Linked DNA regions of Homo sapiens. The protein of the gene in region 1 interacts with the protein of each later gene in a biochemical or structural test. Each region holds a gene or a part of one and is shown in the gene's direction. Other genes may lie near its edges.

What was found.
Region 2: the proteins of PTPRD (region 1) and LRFN3 interact in a biophysical measurement, tested with the Homo sapiens proteins (one large-scale study listed by IntAct).
Region 3: the proteins of PTPRD (region 1) and SCEL form a complex in vitro, tested with the Homo sapiens proteins (one large-scale study listed by BioGRID).
Region 4: the proteins of PTPRD (region 1) and SLITRK1 are reported together in a solved structure, tested with the Homo sapiens proteins (one study listed by BioGRID).
Region 5: the proteins of PTPRD (region 1) and SLAIN2 form a complex in vitro, tested with the Homo sapiens proteins (one study listed by BioGRID and IntAct).
Region 6: the proteins of PTPRD (region 1) and LRFN2 interact in a biophysical measurement, tested with the Homo sapiens proteins (one large-scale study listed by IntAct).
Region 7: the proteins of PTPRD (region 1) and PAK6 form a complex in vitro, tested with the Homo sapiens proteins (one large-scale study listed by BioGRID).

Annotation. Positions count from the first base shown.
Region 1 is NC_000009.12:8,317,503-8,321,002, reverse strand, and holds part of PTPRD (receptor-type tyrosine-protein phosphatase delta isoform 1 precursor), read left to right. Parts: intron 1-1,036; coding exon 1,037-1,172; intron 1,173-3,060; coding exon 3,061-3,129; 3' UTR 3,130-3,500.
Region 2 is NC_000019.10:35,935,120-35,939,173, forward strand, and holds the start of LRFN3 (leucine-rich repeat and fibronectin type-III domain-containing protein 3 precursor), read left to right. Parts: upstream 1-1,254; 5' UTR 1,255-2,436; intron 2,437-4,054. UniProt on the Homo sapiens protein: Cell adhesion molecule that mediates homophilic cell-cell adhesion in a Ca(2+)-independent manner. Promotes neurite outgrowth in hippocampal neurons.
Region 3 is NC_000013.11:77,570,206-77,573,705, forward strand, and holds part of SCEL (sciellin), read left to right. Parts: intron 1-1,918; coding exon 1,919-1,984; intron 1,985-3,500. UniProt on the Homo sapiens protein: May function in the assembly or regulation of proteins in the cornified envelope. The LIM domain may be involved in homotypic or heterotypic associations and may function to localize sciellin to the cornified envelope.
Region 4 is NC_000013.11:83,879,675-83,883,790, reverse strand, and holds the start of SLITRK1 (SLIT and NTRK-like protein 1 precursor), read left to right. Parts: upstream 1-1,316; 5' UTR 1,317-1,787; exon of another isoform or gene 1,788-2,230; 5' UTR 2,231-2,283; coding exon 2,284-4,116. UniProt on the Homo sapiens protein: It is involved in synaptogenesis and promotes excitatory synapse differentiation. Enhances neuronal dendrite outgrowth.
Region 5 is NC_000004.12:48,414,529-48,418,028, forward strand, and holds part of SLAIN2 (SLAIN motif-containing protein 2), read left to right. Parts: intron 1-3,500.
Region 6 is NC_000006.12:40,430,365-40,433,864, reverse strand, and holds part of LRFN2 (leucine-rich repeat and fibronectin type-III domain-containing protein 2 precursor), read left to right. Parts: intron 1-733; 5' UTR 734-751; coding exon 752-2,151; intron 2,152-3,500. UniProt on the Homo sapiens protein: Promotes neurite outgrowth in hippocampal neurons. Enhances the cell surface expression of 2 NMDA receptor subunits GRIN1 and GRIN2A. May play a role in redistributing DLG4 to the cell periphery.
Region 7 is NC_000015.10:40,266,563-40,270,062, forward strand, and holds part of PAK6 (serine/threonine-protein kinase PAK 6), read left to right. Parts: intron 1-3,500. UniProt on the Homo sapiens protein: Serine/threonine protein kinase that plays a role in the regulation of gene transcription. The kinase activity is induced by various effectors including AR or MAP2K6/MAPKK6.

The DNA of each region.
Region 1 (3,500 bases):
ATTTATATATGCCTGTCAGCTACACCCTCCAGTAAATGAATCCATCTATTTTCTACAGCCCGTGCCCAAGTGTTACACATGCTGTTTAATTAGGATCCAAAAATGCAGGGATTTTTCAGATTATTCACTGTTTCCCTCATTATCTGAACTTCCCATTGCTTTCCTCCTTAAGTGCACAAGAGCTATGAATTAATTTTCTTTCTTGCTACCGTGAAGATTCTGGAGTTATCTTAAAACAATGAAGACAACAGAGAGAAACTCAAAACCTTTCTAATGTGGTTTTAGTTGCTGATCATGTAAAAATGGTAGCTAAGTTCAGAGATCAATGGCTCTTAACCATTTTTTTTTAAGATTAGAGACCCCTGTGAGAATCTGTTGAAAGTTCTAAGTCTCAAGAAATAAGAAAACAACATAGTATTTACTTCATGTGTACGTACACTTACAGGATAGTCATAAACCCTCCTGAAGACTAAGTGAAAATCACGTATATACCCTGTTATACCATCTCTTTTCTCATAATAAAACCAGTGTAAACATTTGACTAGTTATAGGCAAATACATTTAGGTTATGGGCATCGCATATGTATTTTAAGTAACTGCAAAATGTGAACAGTGTGATAGAAAAGTTGAAGATGCCAAATTCACTTCACCTTATTCTGAATTATTTCATACTTTAAAAATATTAAGTAGGCAGGTTGTAAATTTCAGAATCTCCATGAATATTATAAACCTATATGTTATTTACCCTTTCTTTTCATTTGTTATGTTTCCTTGGTCTTTCTAAAATGGTATAAATCCCCATTGAAAAGACCTTTTATTAGACTTACTCCTAATTACTTCATCCTCATTATCACATGCTGTTACAACTCAGTATCCCAAGAGTAATCATTTGATGAATGTGATACCATGTTTTCCTGAATATGGCTATAAAGAGATACGGAGTGTGGAAGCTGGTAGAAGTATGTCCACACCCAAGCAAATGTGGCCAAGACTGTGAACATCTCACCCAGTAACATCGCCTTTGTTATTGTGGCAGCGCGGGCGTTGGAAGAACTGGAGTCTTCATAACGCTAAGCATTGTTTTGGAAAGAATGAGATATGAAGGAGTTGTAGATATCTTCCAGACTGTCAAAATGTTAAGAACACAACGACCAGCTATGGTACAGACAGAGGTGAGAAAATCCATTGCATTTTTCGCATCTCAAGAGCCTACGTTTTGCTAGCCTGGACCTCCCGGACTCCATACTCTCTCAACACCAGACACAAAATACTGTGGGGAAAGCATCAAACTGTTTAATAATTTTGAACCTCATTTTCCCCCTTTTTAAATGGGATGAGATTATTAGTGTCTTAGTGTTGCTATAGAAATTATGTGAGATTATATGTTAGATTGAGCTATGTTAAATTTTACTACTGGACCATTTTTGACCAATAAAATGGCAATTTCATAAAATTCGTTATATTCATAGTCCTATAATATAAATATATAAATATATAGAAAGCATAATATTTAGTACATAATATAATCTCAGCCCATTTAACTTCTCCATTCTCCCTCTGTATGCCTACAGAGGTATCAGCTCTTCTATATTTCATGTCTTAACAATGGCCATTCAAAACATTTTGATTCTGGATAAGCCTAGAGATATTAATATTAGCCCCTCATTTCCTATTCCAATAATTAATATGGAAATTTGGATATTTCTCGTAATAATAAGAGTTTATGATATAGCCAGTCTGGTCTATTGAGCATTCATTTCTAAAGATAATATTACTGATAGAGTTTATGTTCTGCAAAAGGCCACCAAATTATACAACTTATATGTGTTCCTCAATTCATCATCCACAGTATCTTTCAGACGGATTTCAAAGTAGTGCAAGTGTTTGGCTTGCAATAGTCAAAACATTATGCCAGCTTGACAAACTTAATGGGTCTTAGGGGTTACAGAGGGAAATTGGACATTTAAAAAGCCTTAACACTCAGCCAAGCAACTTACTGTGACAAGATAGGAAAGTAAACACCATTTATTTTGCATTACCAACCATTTTTATTACAGAAAAATGCACATTTAAGCAAAATAGAAACTATCTGTCTACTTTCAGCCCGATTGGCCACTGAAAATAGGTTTCTTTTATGGGGAAAATCCTTTTCCTCATCCCTATAGAGAGCTGTAAATTGTGATTTTTCCATCTCTCCAACAATGCTTCAATTTATTCCAATATGATAGTGTTCTTCGTTGTCTGAAAAAGGCCATGCTTCATACTGCTTTTTTTTAGTGTGTGCCTCTCTAAAACAGACAACTAGCAATCACACAGAATTGGGCTGAATTTACAGGTATTTTTTGATGTGGGCAGCCAGTCCTGTGAAGCCATTTTCAGGGATGGAAAGCTTGGAAGTCCAGTGCCCTGTGTAAATGGATTTGTGTGCCTGGTGTGCCGCACCAGCTACCTTCTGGCTGTATATGAACATCATATGTAAGTGAGAGAGACAGCCAAAGGGTAGCTGAAATGACTGTGAGTGATTCTCACTGCAAGCTCTACTGTCCAAACATAATTTTTTAAAAATTCAAATTCTGTTGGCAGTAGTTCAGAAGATAAGTAAATTCAGATTTTTCTCAGGACAGTTTGTGTCTGTATCAGCCTCTCTTAAATATTTAAACTGAGAATTAGTTATCTTGAATAAGCAGATAATTGTAAAGGATGATTTTCATCATTATCTGCTTATAAGGCATGTAAGAAGTTTATGTGTTCAATTGGTGGTAATGGTTTGATACTACTTGGAAAACACTTGTCTGGGAAGGTAATGTTCACTCGACCTGCCACTGCTTGGAATTGGGAGATCGTTTTAGTCAAATTGATTGGCAAAGTTAATCAACACCCCATGTGGCTTTTTCTTTGTTCACTATAAACAATTGGTCATTGGATTAGACCAGTTGACGAAAGTAGTGATTTTGCCCCTATATAGATGTTATTTTGTTATGCAATATTGATTTTTATTTTTCTATTAAAATATGCTCATGGTCCCTTCTTTTGCTTCTCCCCATTCATTGTCTCCTGCAGGATCAATATCAGTTTTCCTATCGTGCCGCACTAGAGTACCTGGGCAGCTTTGACCACTATGCAACGTAGAAACCCCTGACCCATTCTGGATTTTTACTACAGGCCCTTCAATATCCATGGAGTCTCTTCTGAGCCATACAGGGCACTTGAGAAGTCCTTCTTAACTTCTAGCTAACAACTACTTAGTGGGACTATTACACACAAAACAAATTAAAAACAAATTATTCCAGGTGGACCAAGAATTCACAGTTTAATAATCTAACCTGAAAAATAATGAAGAGAATCCTGACTGATGAGGCATCTGAAGGATTTTATTTACAGATACCTCAAGGATTCAAAATCAAGGGAAGAAGAAATCACAGCAAAGAACCACCATCTTATTCAGGATTGCTTGAAAGGTGCAAGGAGAAATTGCCAGAATGCTGCAGTTCAGCACAAGA
Region 2 (4,054 bases), on another chromosome or scaffold:
AAGCAAGACCCTGTCTCAAAAAAAAAAGTATGGTCTTTGAAAAGTCACATTAGCATCACCTGGGTACTCGTTAAAAATGCAAATGTTTGGGTCCCACCTCAGACCCACTGAACCAGAAACTCTGAGGTTGGGACCTGGAGATCTATGGTGCCCCCGGGTGATCCTGGTGGGCTGCACTGCAAGGACACCTGGCCTGGCTCCTGCAAGGCAAGGCATCCCTCTCTGCTTTTCTTTCTTTCTTTCTTTCTTTTAAAGACAGAGTCTCACTCTGTCACCCAGGCTGGAGTGCAATGGCTGGATCTCAGATCACTACAATCTCCACCTCCCGGGTTCAAGCAATTCTCTTGCCTCAGCCTCCCGAGTAGCTGGGATTACGGGCGTCCGCCACCACACCCGGCTAATTTTTGTATTTTTAGTAGAGACGGGGTTTCTCCATGTTGGCCAGGCTGGTCTCCAACGCCTGATCTCAAAAGATCCGCCCGCCTTGGCCTCCCAACGAGCCGGGATTACAGGCGTGAGCCACCGCCCCCGGCTGTCAGTGTGTCTTGAGGTCTTTCCCTAATCCCAGATGGCACAAGTTTTCCCTCTTGCAGGCAGAGAAAGGAGCCTTGGGAAGGAGCCCCTCTGGCCTGAAAGATCAAGCCTATTGCTGGGCATGGCCAGGTAAGGAAACTCCAACCGTGGAAAGGACATTCCAGGGAGGTGGTGCTGAGATAAGGGGGGCAGAAAGAGACAGGTTTGGGGGGCCAGTGGCTCTGGAATGAAGCGCTACACTCAAGGCTAGGAATAGTTACTGAATGCACATACACACATACCATTCTCACAGCCCAGGTGCTGCGTCTTAGAGCGTGTGAGTGTGTATGTGTGTGTCTGTGTGTGCGCGCGCACGCACGTCTCTATCTCTGTTTCTGTCTTTCTCTGACTTGTCCTTATCTCTTGTCTCTCCATCACTCTCTGTGTCTCGCTGTCTCTGTGCATTTCCATGTCTCGAATATGTGTGTGTTTCAATCTGTCTCTCTGCCTCTTTCCATTTTCTCCTCTCTATCCATCAATCTAAGCCTGCCCATCTTTTTGTCTGCCTTTCTGTATCTCCGTTCTTCTCTGTCTCTCTGTCTCAGTCTCTCTGTATCCAGGGATTCTCTTTCCCAGCAGCGCCAGTGCGACTCCATGGGAGGTGGGGCCGGGGCGCGTCTTTGAGAGAAGGGGCGGGTGCCTACGCCTTTAAGCGCGGGTGCGCGCGGAGCCTGCGCCTTTAAGCGCCGGTGCGCGCGCTGCCCTGGGTTGCCGGCGAGGAGGCCGCGGGAGCGCCTGGACCCGGCCCGCCCAGCCCGGCCCCCGCCCGGCCCCCGCCTCGGCCCCGGCGGGGGAGGGGTCTCTGAGCGCGGCCCCTCCCCCCTGCGCCCCCGCCTGCGCTGCGGTGCCCCCATCCCGCGTGTCCCAGTCTGTCTGACCGTCCCTCCGCTCCCAGGCCTCGCCCCACCCGGCCCTGGGGCTGCCCGGTCGCCCCCCTCCCCACCGCAGCCGGTCCCCTCCCTCCCAGTCAGCCTCCGCCGCAGCCCAGGAAGCCAGCCGGGACGCCGCCGCCCCGGACCCCGCGCCCTAACCTCCACCTCGGGGGCCTGCACCCCCAGATTGAATCGGGAATTCCGGAAACCCGAGCCTGGAACCCTGATCTGGGACCAGCACCCCGAGATCCGGCCGTGGAACCCCAAGATCTGGAGCCTGAACCCCAGTATATGGGGCTGGAATCTCAACATCGGTCACTGGGACCTCAATATTTGGAGCCGGAACCCCACAATTTGGAACACAGACCCCAATATTTGGAGCAGAACCCCAAGATTTGACATCTAAAACCTCAAGCCTGGAGCTGAACTCTGAATTCTGGGCCTGGGACCTTGAAATCTGGGACTGGATTTCCAGTACTGTACCCTGGAACCCACTCTTGGGGACCTGAACCCTGGGATTCAGGCCTCAAATTCCAAGATCTGGACTGTGGGATTCCAAGGGGCCTGAACCCGAGTTTGGGCCTGAAGTCCTTGCTGCAGACCTGAGTGCTTAAATCTGGGGCTTGAGACCTCCCAATCTTGACTCAGCACCCCAATATCTGAATGCAGAACCCCGGGATCGGATCTCAGACTCTAAACCCCACCGTTTGGCTGCTTAGCATCCCAAGACTGGACCTGGGAGACCCTGACCCTGAACAACCCAAACTGGACCCGTAAAACTGGACCCTAGAGGCCCAATATTTAGGGGTCTGGAACCCCGAGTATTAAGGTCTGGAGACTCCGTTGCCACAGATTTGAGCCGAGTCAGGACACAGTCCCTCTACAGAAGCCTTGGGGACAGGAAAAGCATGACCAGATGCTCCCTCCAGAGCCCTGACCTCTGACTCCCCTGGAGCTAGGACTCTGCTCCCTGGGGCTGCTTCTAGCTCAGGTAAGGCTGCTGAAACCTCAAGGTGGGGACGGGCTGGGAGGAGCATTGTGGCTGCGGGTTACGGTACCAGGTACCCTTTGACACTCTTGGGGTTTCTCCAGAAAAAAAGACATTCCCCCATGGGTCTGCCTTCAGCTCCTGCTCTGCTCCAAACACTCTCTGGACACTGGCCATCCTTGCCCCTCTCTGACCTTCCCTGCCTCAGTTGATGGGACCTCCAGGTCTCTGACCCCTGCAACCCTTACAGCCTTTCGCTGTCTATCCGGTCCGACCGTCTCCGCCACCTCTCTTGTCCACCACTCCTCTCTCTGGGCTCCTTTCTCCACCTGTCCTCTCAATGGCCATCTCTGTTCCCTTTTTCTCTCTCTGATCATCTTTGTGACACCCCTGTCCACAGGTCCTCTCTCCAGTCGCCTCTGCCTGCTGCTTCTCAGTGACCATCGCTGACATCTGTGTCCACTGTGCCTCTCTCTAATCATCATTCACCAGCTCTCTTGCTCCTTCTCCACCCCTGAATCTAAGCCTAGGTCTGTGACCGTCCCCATCCATCTTTGACATTGCTGTCCACCACTCTTCTCTCCAGCAGCCTCTGTCCATCTCTCCTCTCTAGCTTCCTCTGGCCACCTTTCCCTTTCTCTGGCCATCTCTCCCACTGCTCTTGCCCTCCTCCCACCCCTGACCCTAACTCCCAGTCTGCAACTGTCTGACCATCTCTGGCCACCTCTCCTCTCTCTCTCACTCACTGATGCCCTCTGATCATCTCTGGCCACCTCTTCTCTCTCTCTCACTCATTGATGCCCTCTTGATCATCTCTGGCCACCTCTTCTCTCTTTCTCACTCACTGATGCCCTCTTGATCATCTCTGCCCACCTCTTTTCTCTCGCTCGCTGATGCCCTCTGATCATCTCTGGCCACCTCTTCTCTCTCTCTCACTCACTGATGCCCTCTGATAATCTCTGGCCACCTCTCCTCTCTCACTTGCTGATGCCCTCTGATCATCTCGAACATCTCTGCTGCCTTTCCTCTCTCCGATGACCTCTCCCCGCACCATCCTCCTGAGCAGCTGTCCTGGGCTCCCACTGACTCTGCCATGTCTGTCCTTTTCCTCCTCTCTGACCACCTTGCTGGCTTTGGGCCGTTTCTGACCACGTGTCTCTGACATGGTCATCTCCCCCAGATCTGAGCCCAACCCATGCCCTCCCTTCTCTTTGTCCACTGCTCATCTTCCTGACCATCTGTAACCCCTTCTCTTCTCTGGTCATATCTGACCACTTCTGATCATTGTTGCCACCCTGGCTGCCCCGTCTCCCCATGGCCAGCTTTTACCATCTCTGACCACGTCTAAAGCCCTCTGGTTTTCCTGCCACTCACCCAGACCAGCTGTCATTTCTCTGACCATTTCTTTACTTTTTTCTTTTGGAGAGACAGAGTCACGCTCTGTTGCCCAGGCTGGAGTGTGGTGGCGCAATCATAGCTCACTGCAGCCTCAAATTCTTGGGCTCAAATTGATCCTCCCACCTCAGTGTCCCATGTAGCTAGGACCACAGGTGGGCGCCACCATGCCTAGCTAATTTTTAAAAATTTTTGTATAATAGATACACGGTCTCACTTTGTTGCC
Region 3 (3,500 bases), on another chromosome or scaffold:
ATGGTGCTGCTGGAGAAAAATGACTGATTCTGTTTTTTCCTTCAACAAAATTCTGGCTGTAGCTGCAAAGTCTTAGAAAATGTGATTCATCTTTCCATTGAACCCAAATTTCATGTCCCTTGACCCTTTGCCTAGTAAAAACAGATTCCTAAGTTTGAAAGAGAAATTTTAGGTCAGTCAGTTCCATCTCCTATCTAGTGCAAGAATCTTTCCTCCGACATTTTGGGCATAATTCGGGACCACTGAAGCCATCAATAAGATTCTCACTATTTTGGGACACATCTTTGACTTGCTCTCCTGGGTAGCATCTATTCCTTACATTGAGCTGGAATCTGCCTTGATTGACTCGTTCCTTGTCTTAGTTGAGTTCTGCAGCGGCTCAGAGAATAGACCTACTTAAACAATTTAAATCCAGCTTTCCTGTCTGCCTTTTCTTCTGTAGTGCATATCATTCTCATCTGAATATCTTCAGTTTTCATCCATATCTTGATCTTTCTGCTTAGCAATTGCTACCAACTAAAATTATGACCTAGTGATGTGAGGACATCTTTCTAATTGAGGTTAGAACTGAAGGTAGTGCTGCTATAATATTCACTTACGCTTTCAATATTTTTACTTGTCAGAGTTTTCTATCAGTTTCTTTTCTTTTTCTTTTTTCTTTTTCTTTTTTTTTGGAGTGTGCAGTGGTGCAATTTCGGCTCACTGCAACCTCTGCCTCCCAGGTTTAACCAATTATTTGCCTCAGCCTCCCGAGTAGTTGGGAGTACAGGCACATGCCACCACGACCAGCTAATTTTTGTATTTTTAGTAGAGATGGGGTTTCACCATTTTTGCCAGGCTGGTCTTGAGCTCCTGACCTCGTGATCCACCCGCCTCAGCCTCCCAAAGTGCTGGGATTACAGGTGTGAGGCCCTGCGCCTAGCTCGCTCACAGTTTTTTAAAAATTGTATTTTGAGGCCGGGCGCGGTGGCTCAAGCCTGTAATCCCAGCACTTTGGGAGGCCGAGGCGGGTGGATCACGAGGTCAGGAGATCGAGACCATCCTGGCTAACACGGTGAAACCTCGTCCCAGCAACTCGGAGGCTGAGGCAGCAGAATCGCGGAGGGCGGAGCTTGCAGTGAGCCGAGATCGCGCCACTGCACTCCAGCCTGGGAGACAGCGAGACTACATCTCAAAAAAAAAAAAAAAAATTATATTTTGAAGCTGGGCGCAGTGGCTCATGCCTGTAATCCCAGCACTTTCAGAGGCCGAGGCAGGTGGATCACCTGAGGTCGGGAGTTCGAGACCAGCCTGACCAACATGGAGAAACCCCATCTCTACTAAAAATTACAAAATTAGCTGGGCGTGGTGGTGCATGCCTGTAATCCCAGCTACTCAGGAGGCTGAGGCAGGAGAACTGCTTGAACCCGGGAGACGGAAGTTGTGGTGAGCGGAGATCGCGCCATTACACTCCGGCCTGGGCAACAAGAGCGAAACTCCGTCTCAAAAATAAAAATAAAAATAAAACATATATATATATATATATAGAGTAGAGTATAAGATTGTTATTTCTGTTGTGAAATAGTTCAGACAAGCAGAAAAATAGGGAGAATAGGAGAATAACATAATAAACATATATGAATTTACTATCTAGACTTAACAATTGTCATTGTTTTCTAGATTTGCTTTAGATTTCTTTTTAAAAGAGATGTCCACGTTACTTAGTGCTAAAGGAAATGAGAAAAGAGGTTTACTTGGAGGAACAGATAGCCTAGAATATAGGACAGTTACTTCCTACTTCATTTATGAAATAGTGTTCATTTTACTTCCAAGGTTTGGTATAATCTCATTGTCTTTTTAACTGTCAAATTATTTTCAGACATGTGGGTGGGATCAGCCTTTCAATCACAATGTTTATTACCGTGTCATTTCTTAACAGGCAGTCCTGGTTTCCACCGCCCCCTCCAGGTTACAATGCCTCCTCGAGCACAGGAACCAGGAGACGGTAAGGGAAAGGTGTCAGGCGTAATTGCTGTGCCATTAGATGGAAGAACATGTCAGACATTGACAACATATAATTGTGGATGTTTTGGGATAAATTGGAGGCAATCTCATGAACTCTCAGCTCTGTACAGGAGAGTGTCCAGTGGTTGTAAGGTCAGGGCTACCAAGTACCCTGATAGGACATCTGACAAACTGCTAGGAATGAGTAGGTGGCTGTATTAGATTGCTAGGGTTGCTTAGAGCCAAAATAAATGAGTGCCACAAACTGGGTGCCACAGACTGCCACGAAGTGCCACTGGGTGGCTTAAACAACAGGAATTTATTGTCTCATGGTTTTAGAGGCCAGAAGTCCAAAATCAAGGGTTCAGCAGAGTTGGTTCCTTCTGAGGACTGTTAGGGCTCCCCTAACTTCTGGTGGTTTCCTGGTAATCATTGACATTGCCCAGTTGGTACAAGCATTGACCTGATCGCTGCCTTCATCTTCACATGATCTTCTCCCTGTGTGCACGTCTGAGTCCAAATTTCCCTTTGTTATAAAGCAACTAATCATGTCTGTCCTACTACAGTATGACCTTATCCTAACTGAACTAATTACATCTGCAATGACCCTATTTCTAAGCAAGGTCACATTCTGAGGAATTGTGGATTAGGATTTCAACATGTGAATTTTGGGGGCAGAGGGGACACAACCCTTAACAGTGACAGTGGGAGAGAACAGAGTCAGGCATCAGACAGGGGTTCCAATGTGGGCTCTTGATGCCCAGCTGCCTCCAGGCTGTGCAGAACCTGGAGAACTGGATGAGGATATGTGTGGCAAGTTGTTCATAAACGTTAAGCGACAAATGAATATTTTCTAATTTTATTTTTTGTTGAGAGTAATAGTTATAACTAAATGATAGATCAGGTAGAGGACACCTTATTCTACAATTTCCATGCTAGGAATGCCAGCAACAATTCAATGTAATAAATATTTAATAAACACTGCTGTGTGCCAGATATTATTCTAGGATCTTGGGATATATCAGTGAACAAAACATGGAGCCTACACTCTGGTCTTTAAAGAATCATGTTGTATAATCGATATCATCACTAACTCAGAAACAAAAACAGGTCTCCTATTTAGTTTACTTTTCAGGTATCCAAAGATGTTTTTATGTCTCAACATCTAGAATATTTTCATGTTTCAATGGGATCAGTTTTTCTAATTCTGACTATTGGAAAAGAAAATATTTTTAAACTCTGTGCTTATTTCATATTAGATTGGTTTATTTTATAGAATTTTCCTCTACTGTGCAGACTTCTAATGTCTCTTTCATTTCCAAGTAATGGATATGTTTAGAAATACATGTATTTTGCAATAATTTGAGTGGGCTCTATAAGGATGTAAATAAACTGTAGTTGGTCAATAGACACAAAGAGCTCAAGTTGCTTTTTTTATATCTGTCATTACATCTATCTATCTATCTATCTATCTATCTATCTATCTATCTATCTGTCTATCTATCTAATCTATCTCT
Region 4 (4,116 bases), on another chromosome or scaffold:
TTCCTTGAACATTTGCTCTTTTGCACAAAATATTAGCAAGCTCGTTGCAGCTGTCCAACTTGCAAAAGACCTAATTAAAAAGGCAAGTGGTGTAAACATATCCTCTCTGCATAGAGTGAAGAAAGGGCCAAACAGTAACTCTATTTAAAAGACCTAAAAATTTCAAATCCTAAAATGATCTATAAATATTTTAGGACGTATTGATGTGAAAAGGTGTCGACTCTGAAAGGAAAAGTCAGCAAAAGAGGCTTCACGGAAGCAGCATGTTCACGTTTTCTTCCATCCCAGAAGGTGATATTACTGGATTTTTATAAGCTCAGAGTTTGGAATCTGTTGTTTCCTTAACTGGAAAAAGCCTGAGCTTCGTGTTTCCCCAGCATCAGTGACCCAACAAGCATCTGCGCGAAGAGGAGCTGCCGGCTACCTGCAGAGAGCGTTCTCGCTGAGCTTTAGAGTCCAGAGATTTCTATCTCCTCCTCTCAAAATGCAACTGGTTATTTACTTGTAAACATTTAAATTAGTTCAAACTGATGTGAAAACTTTGTCAGTGGGGTGTGTGTGTGTGTGTGCGTGCGTGTAGTGTGCGCGCGCCTGCCTGCCAGTGGGTTTTTAACAGCACTCACAAATCATCTTGGGATTTTTCCCTGCCCCCTCTCCCTTCTTTTCCGGTTCTCAGTTAAAGCTTTCGGGACTGGAATCAAGGACTTCAGCATGCATTGTGTTTCACCCTCCAGAGTTAAATAACATTCAAGAAATATCAAAGAACCTAACTCTCAATGACCAAATTGACTAAATTTCTGCAAGTTTTAAAAAGTATATGCCTAATTTATATACCTTGCAAAAAAATTCATACTCAATTATGATATTATGTAACATATATGTTCCGAAAGCCACTTTGAACATACCAAAAGAAATGTTTCAAAGACATCAAATAGCGTAAAACACTGTGCCGCAGAGAAGGAAGAAATGCATTTAAAGAACCGATGAAAATGGCGTGCAGTATAATTACCTCAAATTGCTGTTCGCTTGACACCCTGACACTAATTTTATTCAAGCCATTGGGAAATAAATGTTTTAAAAGCACTCCTTTCCGAATGGTGGAGCTGGTGGGGGCTGTGAACTCGTTAAGGAAAGGAAAGGGTAAAGTTTCCAGCACGCAAAAATAATCAAATAATCCATTTAAAATAAGCATCTATGTAGATCGTCAGCCTTTTATGCCCACATTTTTAACGCTTGCCCTGTACGTGGATTGATTTTTTTTTCTTTCAGCATTCCCTAGCCAGATGGATTTTTGCTACTGCAGATCAGCAGAGGGTGTCAGATCTTTCAGAGTGCACCAGGCTGGAACGAGCAGAGCTTCTTAGCAACTCTCTTCTCCGCCCCCCTCCCCTCATTCTCGCGCTCTCTTCCTCCCTCAGACAACTCGCCCCCCGCCCTCCGCCCCCCTCCACGTAATTCCGAAAGAGCAGAAGAAAGAGAAGGAGAACAGGAAAAGAAGAGCTAGTAAGCGAGAGCGAGAGCACAGAAAAGAAAAAAAAAAGCCTTAAGAGGACCGAAGGGGAGGAAAGGAAAAGGATGGACAACCACAAAACGCAGCGATTGCGGAAATTTTCCAGCGCCATTGGCTGGGCAGCGTGAGTCCTTCGGTCGGGCGTGATTTCAGCACCGGGGGAACTGGACAGCACCTCGGGGGGACTTCTGGGCAACCCGCAACCACAGCAAGAACTCCACCAGCAGCCTCAACAACAGAAGCCGCGGAAAACCCTGCTTTGTATCAGAGAGGCAAGGTCAGTCCGACGCACAGCCATGCACAGGCAGTGCGCCTGTACTACGCTGCAAACCCTCTGCTTGTTTCTCTAACATGCACTTGCTTCTAATTACTAGCATTGTTTCATTTCTGATCAGTGAAGATCAGTAGATGAGATTCTGTAAGGGTGTACTTTTAATTTATATGTATATATTTAACTTCTTTTTCTGTTATTTTTAAAGTGTTGTGGGGGAGTGGGGTTTTTTTCCTACTTTTTTTTTTTTTTTTTTTTCTTTGCTTGCCTTGCACTACGTGCCTGGATAGTTTGTGGATATAATTATTGACTGGCGTCTGGGCTATTGCAGTGCGGGGGGGTTAGGGAGGAAGGAATCCACCCCCACCCCCCCAAACCCTTTTCTTCTCCTTTCCTGGCTTCGGACATTGGAGCACTAAATGAACTTGAATTGTGTCTGTGGCGAGCAGGATGGTCGCTGTTACTTTGTGATGAGATCGGGGATGAATTGCTCGCTTTAAAAATGCTGCTTTGGATTCTGTTGCTGGAGACGTCTCTTTGTTTTGCCGCTGGAAACGTTACAGGGGACGTTTGCAAAGAGAAGATCTGTTCCTGCAATGAGATAGAAGGGGACCTACACGTAGACTGTGAAAAAAAGGGCTTCACAAGTCTGCAGCGTTTCACTGCCCCGACTTCCCAGTTTTACCATTTATTTCTGCATGGCAATTCCCTCACTCGACTTTTCCCTAATGAGTTCGCTAACTTTTATAATGCGGTTAGTTTGCACATGGAAAACAATGGCTTGCATGAAATCGTTCCGGGGGCTTTTCTGGGGCTGCAGCTGGTGAAAAGGCTGCACATCAACAACAACAAGATCAAGTCTTTTCGAAAGCAGACTTTTCTGGGGCTGGACGATCTGGAATATCTCCAGGCTGATTTTAATTTATTACGAGATATAGACCCGGGGGCCTTCCAGGACTTGAACAAGCTGGAGGTGCTCATTTTAAATGACAATCTCATCAGCACCCTACCTGCCAACGTGTTCCAGTATGTGCCCATCACCCACCTCGACCTCCGGGGTAACAGGCTGAAAACGCTGCCCTATGAGGAGGTCTTGGAGCAAATCCCTGGTATTGCGGAGATCCTGCTAGAGGATAACCCTTGGGACTGCACCTGTGATCTGCTCTCCCTGAAAGAATGGCTGGAAAACATTCCCAAGAATGCCCTGATCGGCCGAGTGGTCTGCGAAGCCCCCACCAGACTGCAGGGTAAAGACCTCAATGAAACCACCGAACAGGACTTGTGTCCTTTGAAAAACCGAGTGGATTCTAGTCTCCCGGCGCCCCCTGCCCAAGAAGAGACCTTTGCTCCTGGACCCCTGCCAACTCCTTTCAAGACAAATGGGCAAGAGGATCATGCCACACCAGGGTCTGCTCCAAACGGAGGTACAAAGATCCCAGGCAACTGGCAGATCAAAATCAGACCCACAGCAGCGATAGCGACGGGTAGCTCCAGGAACAAACCCTTAGCTAACAGTTTACCCTGCCCTGGGGGCTGCAGCTGCGACCACATCCCAGGGTCGGGTTTAAAGATGAACTGCAACAACAGGAACGTGAGCAGCTTGGCTGATTTGAAGCCCAAGCTCTCTAACGTGCAGGAGCTTTTCCTACGAGATAACAAGATCCACAGCATCCGAAAATCGCACTTTGTGGATTACAAGAACCTCATTCTGTTGGATCTGGGCAACAATAACATCGCTACTGTAGAGAACAACACTTTCAAGAACCTTTTGGACCTCAGGTGGCTATACATGGATAGCAATTACCTGGACACGCTGTCCCGGGAGAAATTCGCGGGGCTGCAAAACCTAGAGTACCTGAACGTGGAGTACAACGCTATCCAGCTCATCCTCCCGGGCACTTTCAATGCCATGCCCAAACTGAGGATCCTCATTCTCAACAACAACCTGCTGAGGTCCCTGCCTGTGGACGTGTTCGCTGGGGTCTCGCTCTCTAAACTCAGCCTGCACAACAATTACTTCATGTACCTCCCGGTGGCAGGGGTGCTGGACCAGTTAACCTCCATCATCCAGATAGACCTCCACGGAAACCCCTGGGAGTGCTCCTGCACAATTGTGCCTTTCAAGCAGTGGGCAGAACGCTTGGGTTCCGAAGTGCTGATGAGCGACCTCAAGTGTGAGACGCCGGTGAACTTCTTTAGAAAGGATTTCATGCTCCTCTCCAATGACGAGATCTGCCCTCAGCTGTACGCTAGGATCTCGCCCACGTTAACTTCGCACAGTAAAAACAGCACTGGGTTGGCGGAGACCGGGACGCACTCCAACTCCTACCTAGAC
Region 5 (3,500 bases), on another chromosome or scaffold:
AAGCAATGCAATTGGTGTGGTATTTTTTTTTTTTTTTTTTTTATTATACTCTAAGTTTTAGGGTACATGTGCACATTGTGCAGGTTAGTTACATATGTATACATGTGCCATGCTGGTGCGCTGCACCCACTAATGTGTCATCTAGCATTAGGTATATCTCCCAATGCTATCCCTCCCCCCTCCCCCGACCCCACCACAGTCCCCAGAGTGTGATATTCCCCTTCCTGTGTCCATGTGATCTCATTGTTCAATTCCCACCTATGAGTGAGAATATGCGGTGTTTGGTTTTTTGTTCTTGCGATAGTTTACTGAGAATGATGGTTTCCAATTTCATCCATGTCCCTACAAAGGATATGAACTCATCATTTTTTATGGCTGCATAGTATTCCATGGTGTATATGTGCCACATTTTCTTAATCCAGTCTATCATTGTTGGACATTTGGGTTGGTTCCAAGTCTTTGCTATTGTGAATAGTGCCGCAATAAACATACGTGTGCATGTGTCTTTATAGCAGCATGATTTATAGTCCTTTGGGTATATACCCAGTAATGGGATGGCTGGGTCAAATGGTATTTCTAGTTCTAGATCCCTGAGGAATCGCCACACTGACTTCCACAATGGTTGAACTAGTTTACAGTCCCACCAACAGTGTAAAAGTGTTCCTATTTCTCCACATCCTCTCCAGCACCTGTTGTTTCCTGACTTTTTAATGATAGCCATTCTAACTGGTGTGAGATGATATCTCATAGTGGTTTTGATTTGCATTTCTCTGATGGCCAGTGATGATGAGCATTTCTTCATGTGTTTTTTGGCTGCATAAATGTCTTCTTTTGAGAAGTGTCTGTTCATATCCTTCACCCACTTTTTGATGGGGTTGTTTGTTTTTTTCTTGTAAATTTGTTTGAGTTCATTGTAGATTCTGGATATTAGCCCTTTGTCAGATGAGTAGGTTGCGAAAATTTTCTCCCATGTTGTAGGTTGCCTGTTCACTCTGATGGTAGTTTCTTTTGCTGTGCAGAAGCTCTTTAGTTTCATTAGATCCCATTTGTCAATTTTGGCTTTTGTTGCCATTGCTTTTGGTGTTTTGGACATGAAGTCCTTGCCCACGCCTGTGTCCTGAATGGTAATGCCTAGGTTTTCTTCTAGGGTTTTTATGGTTTTAGGTCTAACGTTTAAATCTTTAATCCATCTTGAATTGATTTTTGTATAAGGTGTAAGGAAGGGATCCAGTTTCAGCTTTCTACATATGGCTAGCCAGTTTTCCCAGCACCATTTATTAAATAGGGAATCCTTTCCCCATTGCTTGTTTTTCTCAGGTTTGTCAAAGATCAGATAGTTGTAGATATGCGGCATTATTTCTGAGGGCTCTGTTCTGTTCCATTGATCTATATCTCTGTTTTGGTACCAGTAGCATGCTGTTTTGGTTACTGTAGCCTTGTAGTATAGTTTGAAGTCAGGTAGTGTGATGCCTCCAGCTTTGTTCTTTTGGCTTAGGATTGACTTGGCGATGCGGGCTCTTTTTTGGTTCCATATGAACTTTAAGGTAGTTTTTTCCAATTCTGTGAAGAAAGTCATTGGTAGCTTGATGGGGATGGCATTGAATCTGTAAATTACCTTGGGCAGTATGGCCATTTTCACGATATTGATTCTTCCTACCCATGAGCATGGAATGTTCTTCCATTTGTTTGTGTCCTCTTTTATTTCCTTGAGCAGTGGTTTGTAGTTCTCCTTGAAGAGGTCCTTCACATCCCTTGTAAGTTGGATTCCTAGGTATTTTATTCTCTTTGAAGCAATTGTGAATGGGAGTTCACCCATGATTTGGCTCTCTGTTTGTCTGTTGTTGGTGTATAAGAATGCTTGTGATTTTTGTACATTGATTTTGTATCCTGAGACTTTGCTGAAGTTGCTTATCAGCTTAAGGAGATTTTGGGCTGAGACGATGGGGTTTTCTAGATAAACAATCATGTCGTCTGCAAACAGGGACAATTTGACTTCCTCTTTTCCTAATTGAATACCCTTTATTTCCTTCTCCTGCCTGATTGCCCTGGCCAGAACTTCCAACACTATGTTGAATAGGAGCGGTGAGAGAGGGCATCCCTGTCTTGTGCCAGTTTTCAAACTATCTCTCAGACCACAGTGCAATCAAACTAGAACTCAGGATTAAAAATCTCACTCAAAGCCGCTCAACTACATGGAAACTGAACAACCTGCTCCTGAATGACTACTGGGTACATAACGAAATGAAGGCAGAAATAAAGATGTTCTTTGAAACCAACGAGAACAAAGACACCACATACCAGAATCTCTGGGACGCATTCAAAGCAGTGTGTAGAGGGAAATTTATAGCACTAAATGCCTACAAGAGAAAGCAGGAAAGATCCAAAATTGACACCCTAACATCACAATTAAAAGAACTAGAAAAGCAAGAGCAAACACATTCAAAAGCTAGCAGAAGGCAAGAAATAACTAAAATCAGAGCAGAACTGAAGGAAATAGAGACACAAAAAACCCTTCAAAAAATCAATGAATCCAGGAGCTGGTTTTTTGAAAGGATCAACAAAATTGATAGACCGCTAGCAAGACTAATAAAAAAAGAGAGAAGAATCAAATAGACACAATAAAAAATGATAAAGGGGATATCACCACCGATCCCACAGAAATACAAACTACCATCAGAGAATACTACAAACACCTCTACGCAAATAAACTAGAAAATCTAGAAGAAATGGATAAATTCCTCGACACATACACTCTCCCAAGACTAAACCAGGAAGAAGTTGAATCTCTGAATAGACCAATAACAGGCTCTGAAATTGTGGCAATAATCAATAGTTTACCAACCAAAAAGAGTCCAGGACCAGATGGATTCACAGCCGAATTCTACCAGAGGTACAAGGAGGAACTGGTACCATTCCTTCTGAAACTATTCCAATCAATAGAAAAAGAGGGAATCCTCCCTAACTGATTTTATGAGGCCAGCATCATTCTGATACCAAAGCCGGGCAGAGACACAACCAAAAAAGAGAATTTTAGACCAATATCCTTGATGAACATTGATGCAAAAATCCTCAATAAAATACTGGCAAACCGAATCCAGCAGCACATCAAAAAGCTTACCCACCATGATCAAGTGGGCTTCATCCCTGGGATGCAAGGCTGGTTCAATATACGCAAATCAATAAATGTAATCCAGCATATAAACAGAGCCAAAGACAAAAACCACATGATTATCTCAATAGATGCAGAAAAAGCCTTTGACAAAATTCAACAACCCTTCATGCTAAAAACTCTCAATAAATTAGGTATTGATGGGATGTATTTCAAAATAATAAGAGCTATCTATGGTGTGGTATTTTTAATCTTGATTTCTAATGTTCGTTGCTGGCATATAGAAACATAGTCAGTGTTTGTATTTTTATCCAGTTCTGTGACCTTACTGAATTCACTTATTATTTCTAGAAGTGTGTGTGTGTGTAGATTCATTGGGATTTTCTGTGTA
Region 6 (3,500 bases), on another chromosome or scaffold:
GATAGAGGCTAATTGCTTATGAAGGGTTCAGAATTCACTCCTTTGCCTCCCATCACACCTCCTTCTTCACTTCCCACATTCTCAAAGATTCATAAACTATGTGGATTCTCCTTGGTGAAACAGTTCCCCACTGACCTTGGAGTCTCTCAGCACCAACTCTCTTCTTATCTACAACCTCATTCTTAAGGAATGCTGGTTCAATTTAATTTCATGCTAAGCCTAAACCAATTAAGAATGTAAAATTATGCCTCAAAAAACAGCCATAATATCCTTTCAAACTCAATTATTGGATAAGCCAATGATATGGTATCGCATTCATCCATCCATCCATCCATCCATCCACCCATCCATCCATCCATCCATCCAACAGATAGTTATTGAGCAGCTACTGTGTTCCAGGCATTGAGCTAGGTAATTGGGATACAGCAATTAGTAAAACAGGCAAAAGTACCTGCCCTCTTTGGAGCTGACCATAGAGGACTGAAACAGGAAACAATAAATAAACATCATAAATAAGTAAACTAAATAGTGTGTTAGAAGGTGATAAAGCTAAGGAAAAGAGAAACAGTAAAACTGCATTAGAGGGATTCATGGAAGAGATTAGGTCTTGCTTGAGCACTTGCCATTCTATGCCACTCCCTAAGGCAGTGAGGGTTAATGTGAGGGAGGAAGCTCTGGGTGAGTGCATTAGGAATTTGCCTCCTGACCCTGAGCTTGTGTTTCTCCCTTCCAGGCGCTGAGTGACCAGACCATGGAGACCCTGCTTGGTGGCCTGCTAGCGTTTGGCATGGCGTTTGCCGTGGTCGACGCCTGCCCCAAGTACTGTGTCTGCCAGAATCTGTCTGAGTCACTGGGGACCCTGTGCCCCTCCAAGGGGCTGCTCTTTGTACCCCCTGATATTGACCGGCGGACAGTGGAGCTGCGCCTGGGCGGCAACTTCATCATCCACATCAGCCGCCAGGACTTTGCCAACATGACGGGGCTGGTGGACCTGACCCTGTCCAGGAACACCATCAGCCACATCCAGCCCTTTTCCTTTCTGGACCTCGAGAGCCTCCGCTCCCTGCATCTTGACAGCAATCGGCTGCCAAGCCTTGGGGAGGACACCCTCCGGGGCCTGGTCAACCTGCAGCACCTTATCGTGAACAACAACCAGCTGGGCGGCATCGCAGATGAGGCTTTTGAGGACTTCCTGCTGACATTGGAGGATCTGGACCTCTCCTACAACAACCTCCATGGCCTGCCGTGGGACTCCGTGCGACGCATGGTCAACCTCCACCAGCTGAGCCTGGACCACAACCTGCTGGATCACATCGCCGAGGGCACCTTTGCAGACCTGCAGAAACTGGCCCGCCTGGATCTCACCTCCAATCGGCTGCAGAAGCTGCCCCCTGATCCCATCTTTGCCCGCTCCCAGGCTTCGGCTTTGACAGCCACACCCTTTGCCCCACCCTTGTCCTTTAGTTTTGGGGGTAACCCACTTCACTGCAATTGTGAGCTTCTCTGGCTGCGGAGGCTCGAGCGGGACGATGACCTGGAAACCTGTGGCTCCCCAGGGGGCCTCAAGGGTCGCTACTTCTGGCATGTGCGTGAGGAGGAGTTTGTGTGCGAGCCGCCTCTCATCACCCAGCACACACACAAGTTGCTGGTTCTGGAGGGCCAGGCGGCCACACTCAAGTGCAAAGCCATTGGGGACCCCAGCCCCCTTATCCACTGGGTAGCCCCCGATGACCGCCTGGTAGGGAACTCCTCAAGGACCGCTGTCTATGACAATGGCACCCTGGACATCTTCATCACCACATCTCAGGACAGTGGTGCCTTCACCTGCATTGCTGCCAATGCTGCCGGAGAGGCCACGGCCATGGTGGAGGTCTCCATCGTCCAGCTGCCACACCTCAGCAACAGCACCAGCCGCACTGCACCCCCCAAGTCCCGCCTCTCAGACATCACTGGCTCCAGCAAGACCAGCCGGGGAGGTGGAGGCAGTGGGGGCGGAGAGCCTCCCAAAAGCCCCCCGGAACGGGCTGTGCTTGTGTCTGAAGTGACCACCACCTCGGCCCTGGTCAAGTGGTCTGTCAGCAAGTCAGCACCCCGGGTGAAGATGTACCAGCTGCAGTACAACTGCTCTGACGATGAGGTACTGATTTACAGGTGAGCAAGCGGCTGTGGCAAAGGCAGGGAGGGTGTCTGGCTGGGGAAGGAGGAGGGGATGGGGAGGTCTTGGGGCTGCTCCCACCTATACCCCTCTTCCCCAAAGGTGTCTGTGGGGATTCTGGGGCAAACTGTGCCATTCGTGCAGGTAAGAGGAGATAAAAAGAACATCAACTACAAGGCTAAGAAGAAAAGAATCCACACGGGCAGCCTGAGAGATATGTGTAAAGAAAGACCACACCTCCCGGCTGGGTGGCTGTGGTCAGTGGTCTTATGGCTATGAGCTTATGAATGTTCTGTTCTAAGCCCAGTTGGAGGATATACAAGGACAATGAATAGACCTCTTGGCTGAAGGTTCTGACTCCCCAAAAGAGGCATGCATTTGACCTTCACCTGGACTCATATGCAGTCATGGTTAAGGCTCTGAGGTCAGAAAGAGTGAGATTCAAATCATGGCTTTTCCACTTGCTAGTCATTTCATTCTCCTGGCCTCCCTCAGTTTTCTCATCTGTAAGATAAGGATAATTAATACCTGACTTAGTTTGGACACTCACTAAATGCACTTATTCAGTTTTGGTAACTGAATCAAACTGGCTTTTAAAAAAAAAAGAGAGAGAGAAAGGGAGGGAGAGTGTGTTGACTCATGTCATTAACAAGTCAGGAACCTGCTTCAGGTTCAGCTGGATCAAAGGTCCCCTACAAATCTGTATTCTCAGTTTCTTACCTTCCCTAAGTTCTATTTTTCTCTGGGTTGGCTTCACCGTCAGGGAGTCTCTTTCCCCTGGGAGACCTCTGCTGGGTCCTCTAAGCAGCCCTAGAGCCTACTTAGAGCCCTAGAGGGAGAAGAGCTTCCCTTTCCCAATTGAGCGCTGACTGAGTCAGACCACATCATGTGAGCCCCCTGGGTCTTACAGGTAGCATCAGCCCTCTCACCTGTGCTGAACCCCCTGGGCCTTAGTCTCTGCATCTAGAAGTGAAGACAATGGTACTGACCTTGAAAAGTTCTCTGAAAATCAAGGGGTCATTTCCTAGGTCTGGTAGAAAGGGAGGTTAAATGTGGAAAGCTGCAATAGAATCACATAAGTCATTCAGAGGAAAGAAGGTCACAGAGTGACAGAAGGCCAGGGGCCAAAATGCTGACCACAGATGAGTTCCCTTATATGAAACATGAAGGACATGGCCTAAAACCTTACCGCTCAAGGAATGTATGGTGTCCTTTGAAATTCTGTGTGTTTTATTTTATGCATGTAAAATGATTGTTTGGAGATGGGATCCCATGAGTTTCATCACACAGCCAAAGGGCCCATGGTGCAAGAGAGATCAAAAATACTTGATCCATCCTGGAGGTC
Region 7 (3,500 bases), on another chromosome or scaffold:
CCTTCCCCTTGGAGGACTGGCAAAGAGGCTCCCTGGACTGCTTCCGCCTAAGGCGGCAGAAATGTGCACGGTAACCTCTTCTCTAAGGAGGGTGGCTCGCCTCCTCCTTCCCTCCCTTCCTTTCCTTCTTTTCTCTGTGGCTGTTGTGTTGTTTCCCATTTCTGTCAGTATTTGTTCCCAAGTGTGTGGCCATAGGAAAAGCTGGATTTGCCTAGTCCAGGGGCAGCAGGAGGCCGACTTGTGGCATGTGTGACTGCTTCAGACGCACATTTTTCTTGTGAGAAAGGAAAGGGTGAAGGGAGCCCCCGTGGTGACATTTCTTGGCAGGCAGAGTGGAGCGCACCTTTTTGCTTCTTCCAGGCCCTCCAGCATCCTGTTGATAGTGACAGTAACCTCTTTTCCCATTTGGCAGAGGAGGAGACTGATAGAGAGAGGGTGAGTCACCCCCAGGCATGATGGAGAGTGAGTCAGAGAAGGAAGGTGGGGAGTGCTCTGGGGCTGCCTGTCCGGCCCGGGCCCTCTTGGCTCATGACTCTTGCGTATGAAGGCTTTACAAGCACAGCAGCCACTTGTTCTTTAGCTCCTTCCTGGGAGGGTCAAAGGCAGTCCTAAGAAACGGCTGCTGACAGTGGCATGGGTAATGGAGCCTCCCCTCCCTCCTGGGAGGGCTTTAAGACAAGCCTGGGTACTCCCCTGTCATCGGTGGGGTGAGTGTGGCCCAGCCTGCACAGGGTGTGGGTTTGGGGATGACCCGGACTACAACCTCTCTGGGTCACTGCCTGCCAGCTGAGGTACTCAGAGAAAGTTCTGGGCGGCCGCGCGTGGTGGCTCACGTCTGTAGTCCCAGCACTTTGGGAGGCCAAGGTGGATGGGTCACGAGGTCAGGAGATCGAGACCATCCTCGCTAACACGGTGAAACCCCGTCTCTACTAAAAATACAAAAAAAATTAGCCGGGCGCGGTGGCGGGCGCCTGTAGTCCAAGCTACTCAGGAGGCTGAGGCAGGAGAATGGCGTGAACCCGGGAGGCAGAGCTTGCCGTGAGCTGAGATCGCACCACTGCACTCCAGCCTGGGGGACAGACAGAGCGAGACTCCGTCTCAAAAAAAAAAGAGAAAGTTCTGAGCTTTGTGCACTCTAGTCCCCTACTAGGTTAAAGGACAGTGGGTTGGGATCCCCATGGGTTGTGGCTTGATGTATCTGTGAGAGGAACACGAGCATCTGTGAGCTGCAGGGTGTCTGGAAGGCTGTGCCCCTGGGGAGACTCAGCCAGAAAACCAACGTAAGATCAGGACAGTGCACCCTGCTGGGAAGGTGAGATTCGGAGCTTGACCTCCCTCTGTCTCTCAGGAGTCCTGCTGCGAGGCCTCAGGGATTTGGAGAAAGGGGTTGTCAACACTGGGCTGGGCACTCATTTGCATCTTTCTGGGCTCCTGCCAGCACCCCACAGCAGGGGGAGAGGCCTGTCCATCCCTGCACAATGTACTGAGTACTCACCATGGGCCACTGCTGCTGGGTATGCCGGGATGTCCCCCATACTTGTGGGAGCAGGCGGTAGTTATCTCGAGCTCAGCAACACCATACTTCCAAATCCAGGGGAGTGGTTTCCTTCTGGGCAACTCAGACACATCTTTCAAGATTTCTACTCTGAAGCCAAGCCTCTCAATGGCAAGCTGAGACCCCCCGAGCTGCTCCGGGCCGGGGCTTCTCAGCGTCCTCACTGCAGGCGCTCAGGTCAGTCCATCCTTTGTGGTGGGCTCTCCTTGCACTGTAGCAGCCTCCCTGGCCTCTACTCACTAGAAGTTGGTGGTACCCTCGGTTGGAATAACCAAAAATGCCTCCAGACACTGCCAAATGTCACTCGAGCACACCCATTAAGAACCACTGCCTTAAGCAAATTCAATAACAGATGGGGAGCATCAGCCTTCCTCCTCCTCCTCCACCACCACCTACCCCAGGAGTCCCCAGATCAAGCCAGCAGCCCTTGGCACTGGGGCTGACTCTGGACACTTGCAGCAGCTTCCATAACAGCAGTTAGGCCACAGAGGCCATGCAGTGTGCCAGGCATGGCTGCAGGAGGGTCTGAGTATAGACTCCAGGGCTCCTGTACCTAGCCCCAGGCAGTGAGGCCTGGAGTCACTCTAGCTAAAGAGATCAGGAAGACAGGGCGTGGGGGCACAGAGACCAAAGAGGCAAGACAGTTTTTTAGGAGCTTGCAGGGATTAGACATGTTCCACTTAGAGTCAGAAGGGCAAACATTGGTTAAGCACCTACCGTGTACTCCGATATATGTCAAGGATACATGGCACCAGTGGGATTGCAGCATGGGAGTCAGCAGCCACGGGCGTCCTGCGGGTTCCAGTGCCTACAGGACAACCAAACAACCCACAGGGTTATGAGGATTACATGAGATAGTACGTTGAAGGCACTTGTCAAAGTGGTAAGCCCTCAATAAATGGCTTTATTAGTAGTATTTGAGATGGCGTCTCCCTCTTTCGCCCAGGCTGGAGTGCAGTGGCACAATCTTGGCTCACTGCAACCTCCACCTCCTGGGTTCAAGTGATCCTCCCACCTTAGCCTCCCAAGTAGCTGGGATTACAGGCACGCTCCACCATACCCAACTAATTTTTGTATTTTTAGAAGAGATGGGGTTTCACCATGTTGCCCAGGCTGGTCTTGAACTCCTGACCTCAAGTGATCCACCTGCCTTGGCCTCCCAAAGTGCTGGGATTACAGGCACCTGAGCCACCATGCCAGGCCGGCTTTATTATTTTTAAAAATATTATGCCATGGCCTCTCCCCTTTAGGATACTTAAGGTATAGCCCCCTAAGCCCACAGCTGGGGAGCCATGGCTCAGGGCGGGAAATGAGGCATTGCTGTAAATGTATGCATGACTCTTCTAGTGGCTTTCTTCCCAAGAGGTCTATCACATGAGTAACTTCAGAATTAATCCAGAGCCTGTAACAATTAATTAATTCTGTTGTCGTGTCCCCCTTTCCCTTTCTTGTGTGGCCTCACAAGTTTCATCTGGTCCTTGCTTGTGATTACATTGATAAAAGCTCCCTCCCTGTGGAGACAGGCAGTGAAGCCAACGAAAGGATGCTAGAGACCAGACCTTGCCAGGCTGAAGACCAAGCCAGCTCCCCAGACTCCCCAGCCTATGTCCCAGACTCTGCTTGTGCTGGGCTCCTGGCTGGGCCATCCCTCCCCCAGCCTCCAGACGCAGGCTCCGCCCTGAGCCCAGCCAGCACCTGCAGCAGCAGCAGCAGCACAGGGACCTGGCCTGTGGAGACAGGGAAGAAACCCCTACCTCAGCCTGTCCACGTGGTACCCACACATCCTCAGAGTAGAGCTGGCCCATGCAGAAGCCCTCAAGGCCAGGAGGGGAATGATCTCATTTTACAGCCTTTCTTAGGAGCTTCAGGATGAGAGGTCATCAGAGCCACCTCAGGAGGAGCTTTAGGTGGTCCCCAAGCTTCTGCCCCGACCCACCTGGATGGG